Homo sapiens: one gene and its partner. The protein of the gene in region 2 purifies or fractionates together with the protein of the main gene of each other region. This does not show direct contact. Each region holds a gene or a part of one and is shown on either strand. Other genes may lie near its edges.

Region 1 (3,500 bases), on a different chromosome or scaffold from region 2:
CAAGGAAAGATTTGAGAGAGTTGGTGGAAAGGGTTATAGAACTTTTCTGGTTTGGGATACAACTTTTGTTTATTACTTATTTATTGGTAACAATTTAATATATTTAATGTTGTTATGTCTAAACATTACAAACAAGAAATCTCCTGTTTTGCTAATGCCTGTCGTCTTCTTTCCTCCTGGTGAACTTTCCTATTCAGCCATATCGATCTTTTCACTCACCCCCAGATAGCATGCTTATTCTTACTTCTAAAAATATAGTCATGTCATGGCTGCTTTTCTGGTCACTGCTACCCTTGTGTCAACTTGTATCAGCAGTATTCCAAGGAAGCAAATGGCACGTTGAAATGAGGATAATTCAAGGAAGGTATATTTACAAAGATATTAGTAATAAAGGTGTTGGACTTCAATAAGCAAACCACAGCATAATGCAGTTATCTGGAGCTAGCAGCATTAGGAGAGGGAGAGGCATCAGAATCAGAAGAAGGGTCTTGGAGAGCAGCCTACCTGGAAAGAAATAGCCTTCTATTGAGGAACACAGCCAATCCAAGGTGACCTAGAGGTAGAGAACCAGGACGATGAATATTCTGATCTCACTCTGCTACCTCCCTCTGATCTGTCATGGTTCTTCATTGGCTGACCTCAACCAGAAGGCAGAGGACAGGGGAGCCTAGTGATGTAATCCCTCTGACAGAGAGCAGAATGGAAAGGAGGATACAGTGAGCCTAGAGGGCAAATGGATGATGTCTGGCATGCTGCCCATCCTTTGGGAACCAGTGGACATCTTACCTCTCCATGAAGCTTTTGCTTACCTTGCTAGCCCAAAAGAGCTCTTCAGTATCTTTCAGGATTTAGTCATTGACTGTTGCCTTTTATTTTACCTTGTGTACCATTGCGTTGTTTAAATGCTGTTACTTTTTAACTTCCAAATGTTTGCCTTATCCACTCAACTCAGTTTTAAACTGCAAGTATTAAGAATTTAAAATTTTTCCTGATACTTTGCCTTGCGCCTTGCACATAACAATTTGTTTGTTACACACACACACATATTTGTATTTCTGCATTAGTGGTCTAAATAAAATTTCTGTGATTTTAAGGAATCAAGAAAGTTGAAGGATTGGCCTTAAGGTAACTTCCCCTCTGTGTATACTTTATTATGATCTGTTTAGCCTTTTTATTATGAAAAATGTTAAACATTTACATAAGTAGAAAGAACAGTGAATTCCTAGGTACTCATCATGCAACTTCAATTACAGAATTAGTCATTCTTTCTTTATTCTCATCCTATCCACCCCACCACTGCAGTATCACCAAGGTAATTGTTTTAAAGCTGTGCTTACACTGATCTCTTGGAGGCCAAGGAGAGTATGCAGATTGTCATAGTTTATGTTGTCATCACTATTGAGCCACTGACATTGTATGTATACTCCTTATTTCATCTCTTTTGTTCAGATTTGCTTCACTTGACACACAATCTCATATATATGTATTTCTGCATTAGTGGTCTAAGTAACATTTTTGTGAAAATTGAAAGAGTTGGCCTTACAGTAACTTCCCCTCTGTGTATACTTTATTATCAGCTGTTTATCTAACCTTTTTTTTTTTTTTTTAACAGAGACTTGTTTTTATGAGATTAACCTGTGCATTGATTTTGCATGGGGACCCAAACTGGTTTTTCAGGTGTTTCCTGACGTATTTCATGTTGTCATATCTGTTTTATAGCTGCCATTACTGTACTTATCCCCAAATGTATGCAGCCTTTAAAATGAGATACTTACATAAATGTTCAGGGAAAATTGGAGCATCTGCTGCAAATTTCCATTAGCTCTTAATGCCTGAGCCGACACAGCTTTAAAAATCTGAATGTTTTGTCAGATTCTTTTGTATTAGTCTTTTTCTTGAGTTAAGATGAACTCCTCCTTCTCTTCATTTCACTTTCTTTTTAAGGTACACACTGAAATATCCACAGGGAGCAATTTGCACTGGTCTGTGTCACTTCTCTTATTAAGTAGAAGAAAGATAACATGAGTCACCTTTGTAACCCTACGGGTGTGCAAAGTCTCTTGAGCAAACATTCACTTGTTAACCTCCAGATGATCAGTCAGCCTACATGGGTGTTACATTTCATGGGGAAGGAGACCTTAGATCTACAGCAGAGAGCCGTATCGTGTTCAGGAGGATTCCTATTATTAAACTTATTATTTAATCAATTTGCATTTAACCATTGAACTGACAGACATAAGGCCTTAAGTTAATCACCTTAAAGGGAAATCAGTAGTCACATGAAGAGCCACAGCTCCTCTTGGCCTAAAAATGTGGAATTCTAAGACAATAAAGTGACTTAGGAAGTCACAAAAGGGTTTTTCTAAGGAAACAAATTGTTCCCCCATTGGTCTCCTCTTTAATGACTTACAGCTGAGCGTAGAGATCTAAAAAGACTTTTGTTCCTTCTACCTGAGAAAGATGAAACAGAACTAGTCTTTTGAGAGATTGTTTAAGGGAGAGTGGCTGAAGGACCACGGGCCTTTGGGAGCCAGGGTAGCTGTCATTGTTGGAATGGCCATGGAATGCATGTGAGGGCAGTTAGAGACAGCTAGTAGCCAAGAGAAAAAAAGCTGATGCCATAGGGCAGAGTATTATTAGGAAGAAGGGAAGAAATAGTACTGAAGAAGCCAAGAGTAAAGTGTTTGCATTTTTGCCTGATGTGGACCTAGATCTAGAAAGCTGGCTTGCCAGAAGGAGTAGAAAATCAGGAAGAAAAGCCATAGCTGCTGCCCAGAGTTGTGGGCGACCTGGCACTGAAGCTGGTCAGCTGTGTGTGTGTGTGTGTGTGTGTGTGTGTGTGTGTGTGTGTGTGTGTGTGTGGCGTGGGGGGGCGGGGCCTGTTTTTGTGTTTGTGTATATGTGTGTGTGTGTGGCGTGGGGGCGGGCGGGGCCTGGCAGGACATTAGGTATCATCTTGGCAGGGGCTGAAGGGCCCTTATATGTTGATTCAACCATGCGGGGAAGAACAGCCATGATTCACCACCTAAAATAAGAATTCAGAGCCTGGGACTGAAGTTTAAGAATAGTGTGGTCTTTGGTCTATAGCTAGTGCCACTAAAAATTTTGTTGGCATTTATTGAATGTTGTGAGTAAGATTCCAGAATGCACCTAAAATGTGGAAAAACAAAACTTGTTGCTGGAAAAAAGCCTAAACTTAAAAATGTGATCCAAGTCAACAAATTAATCTCACTTTAAGCCAAAGGAAATGTTTGAAATGAAAGTACTGCCAGGAAATAGAAAGAGTATTCTAGACTTAGGCAGAAAGATTTATGGGTATTTTATGTTTAGTGACTTCCTCAGCCATAATGCATTATTAGAACGAACAAATAACCTCTTCTAAGGACTCTGTTCATATCTGGAACTGAAACACAACTGGGATATCAATTTTTTCCTTCTCTGATGTCCCTTACCCTTTCAGGGAAAAAAAAAAAAACCATATATGTGGATATGAGTAATAG
Region 2 (3,500 bases):
CGGGAGCCCAGGGGACCCATTGTGGGAGGTTCCATTTGAGCAGATACCTGAAGAGGTTGAGTGGTACTGGATGGGGAACCATGAAGGTGGAAGGAAGCGTGAGGCACAGTCCTGAGAATAAAGCCACATGTTGGAAGGAGAAGAACGCCAGTGTGACGGGGGCAGAGGGGTGGGGTTGGGCTGTGGATAGGAGATAAAGTTGCAGAGGTAGGCAGGCCAGATCAAGTAAGGCCTTGGTAAGGGGTTGAGTTTTATTTGGGGCAATGGAGGGCTCCGAGCTTGGGGGGTGACCTGTGATGGAATGCACCCAGCACACCGGGGGCCTCGCTTGGACAGTGCTCTTTAAAACTGTGACATGAGGAGACACTGAAGACGGGTGTCATTGCCATTACCAGTCTGTCTCCCCTCTAGGCTGAACTCCTCCTGGGCAACTTTGTTATCTGTCTCCCCTCTAGGCTGAACTCCTCCTGGGCAACTTTGTTATGACCCTGGTCAGCCCAACTTAGCCTGGAGTAGGAGTTTTGCAAATCTTTATCAGGAAAACAAAGAGAAGAAGAGGAAGAAAGAAAGGAAAAGAGGGTGGATAGAAAAGGGGAAAGAGGGGAAGAAAAGAGAGGAGGGAGGAAGGCAGAGAAGAAAGAAGAGAGAAAAGACATGAATCACAGAGCACCAGCACGCATCAGAGGAAATAATGACGTTCTCTTCAATGCTTCTCTCTTATGGCTTGGGCTCGGCTAAACTGAAAGATTTCAGGTTGAGGTCCCTTCTCTGAGCCACAGCCTGGAGCCCCCTGCACTGCGTACATGCAGAAACATCCAGAGAGAGGACCAGCCTGTGGTCCCTCATGCACTGGGGCTGGGGGTGACCCATCTTGTCCCCAGCAGTCCCCAGCAGGGAGGGTCTTCCCAGAGCAGGCTGCCCAGTGAGGGCTGAGCTCCCTCTGGCAGGAGGCATTCAAGCCACATGGAGGTAGGACTTATACCCTTTTGCACAACCTCAAAGGTTCCTCCCCACTCTGAATCTGTTAGCAGAACAATGGAGGAGTTGAGACTTGAACTGGATCAAAGAAAAACAATGTGCTGTGTTGGCTGGGTTGCAGCTCAGATATTTGGATCAGTGAATGCAAGGTACCCCAGTTGATGGAGGGGAGCTTGCTCTGCCAGCCTTGGTCCTTTAGATTCAAGAGGCAGAAAGCACATTTGGGGGCACCTCCTTTGTACCTGGCACTTCACTAGGCTGTTTCTGTGATCTTCCAGACAATCCTCTGTGTGAGATGGAGGCTGTTGTCCCTGTGAGGCAGATGGGGAAAGCAAGGTTCAGGGCGTGGCGCCACTGAGTCCTGGGAGCTTGGTTCCTAGGGCATTTTCTAGCTTGGGGATGGGGGGGTGCAACATTATTGGTGAACTTTCACCCCATCCATCGGTCAACCCCAGATGCTGCAGATACACCACCGCTACCACCGGAGTGAGCTATCAGCTGCCACTGACTTCCCAAACTTCCCTGATGGCCAGAGTCCCCTGGAGTGCTGATTAAAATGTGGAAGTCATTGTTATGCAGTCAAGGCCACATGCTTGGGGAAGCCAGGTTCAAGTGTGCATTGAGACCCTGGGCTGCTGCTTATGTGTGGAGCATGTTGAGGGGCTGTGACACTGTCCTGGCAGGTTTGTTGTGAGGATTAAATAAGGTAATGGCTTCAGTGCCACCTGAGCCTTTACTGGCATTTATTTATCAGGCCTTCCATAGATGTGCTTCTCTGTTTCTTCCCGCTCATAGTCCCTTAAGAGTATGTGAACAATCCCAGTTGAATTATGCCTTCTTCCCAACAGAAACAAAGAAGAGAAAGTGGAATATTTCTGTTAAAAAAAAAAATCCCTGCAGATGCTGTAGGTACAGGGGTCAGAGAGGTGTGGCCCTGACCCATGCCCCTAGAGAGCCCAGTGTCCCCCACACACACTTCCCGGGCTTGGGAGCCCTGCTCCTCTCCAGACGTTCCCCAGCAGAAGGACACTTCGTTGTCAGGAAATGAAGCAGTGGAAAGGAGAAAGCCAGCCTGGCCTCTCTGGTGTCCTGTTAGTGTGCGGCATCCTAGGGAGGCACCAGGAAAGACTCCCCACTCCTCAGAAGCCTAGAGCGGACTTGGCCATTTGAGAACGCTCACTGATATATAATAATGTTTAGGCGATTCAAACCTGACACAATACTCATGCTGCTGCCAAGGTTGGGGCAGCTTCCTGGGACTGCTGACATGGCTGTGCTGCCCTGGTGCCCTGGGGAACGCCTGCTTCCACCAGGCAAATAGGAAGGAGTGGCCGGCAGCCCCAGGGAAGCCGGAGCTGGAGCATTCTTGAACCAAGTTGCAGATGTAATGGTTGAGACGTCCCGGTCTTTACCTGGACCTTGGAGATTTAGTCAGGTTGCCTTGTGTAATCCTGATGCTGCTCTTTTCTTGTTAAAACAATCTTAAAAGTCCTCAGGCAGAACAAAGAGCAGATGCCTAAATGGCTGTACTTTTGATCCTGGTTTCCCTTAGGAGGTGCTCAAAAAGCATGAGCGTTTATTTATTTCGTCTCTTTTGGAAGAATGTTTGGGTTTAATGTGAAGTGTATTTAATGATTGCATTTAAAAACTGATTGCATAAATAGAGGGCTGTGCAAATACAGGAGGGGCTGCCTTGATGCAGGGCTTGGACCCAACCCAAGCCATCCTGAGCACTTAATGAAGGTGTCAGTGACATTTGTTCATTTGTGCATGCAGAGGCAGTAGAGGGCAGGGGGAGCAAACAGGAGCTTTGGAGTCCAGCAGGCCCGAATGCCTCCCTGTCTGCCCCTATTTCTTTGCTGTTGCTTTTTGTTGTTGTTGTTGTTTGCTACGGGATATTGACAATCTCAACCTTAATTCCTCACCTGTGCACTGAGGATTGCAAAGGGCGCCCTCATCAGTTTCATGTGAGGATTACACGAAAGGAGGGAAGCAAAGCGGGGGAGGAGGATGGTCCTGAAAGTGTGGATCGGTGGGCGTTTGCTCCTCCAGCCCTGGGTGGGAGACCCTCAGGAGCACGAGCGAGAACTTCACAGCCTGTGGTCTCTCCTTCCCTCACAGAAGTGGTCGACCAGAAGGCCGTGTATTTCTTCAACCTGACTTCCATGCAAGACTCGGAAATGATCCTTACGGCCACTTTCCACTTCTACTCAGAGCCGCCTCGGTGGCCTCGAGCGCTCGAGGTGCTATGCAAGCCGCGGGCCAAGAACGCTTCAGGCCGCCCGCTGCCCCTGGGCCCGCCCACACGCCAGCACCTGCTCTTCCGCAGCCTCTCGCAGAACACGGCCACACAGGGGCTACTCCGCGGGGCCATGGCCCTGGCGCCCCCACCGCGCGGCCTGTGGCAGGCCAAGGACATCTCCCCCATCGTCAAGGCGGCCCGCCGGGATGGCGAGCTGCTCCTCTCCGCCCAGCTGGATTCTGAGGAGAGGGACCCGGGGGTGCCCCGGCCCAGCCCCTAT

The links. Proteins that work in one complex are often made in the same cells at the same time.
Region 1: the proteins of GDF10 (region 2) and ZNF507 purify together in Homo sapiens (affinity purification with mass spectrometry; 2 studies listed by BioGRID and IntAct, with this or other methods). This does not show direct contact.

The regions. Positions count from the first base shown.
Region 1 is NC_000019.10:32,348,610-32,352,109, forward strand, and holds part of ZNF507 (zinc finger protein 507), read left to right. Parts: intron 1-504; exon of another isoform or gene 505-744; intron 745-3,500. UniProt on the Homo sapiens protein: May be involved in transcriptional regulation.
Region 2 is NC_000010.11:47,306,697-47,310,196, forward strand, and holds part of GDF10 (growth/differentiation factor 10 preproprotein), read left to right. Parts: intron 1-3,099; coding exon 3,100-3,500. UniProt on the Homo sapiens protein: Growth factor involved in osteogenesis and adipogenesis. Plays an inhibitory role in the process of osteoblast differentiation via SMAD2/3 pathway. Plays an inhibitory role in the process of adipogenesis.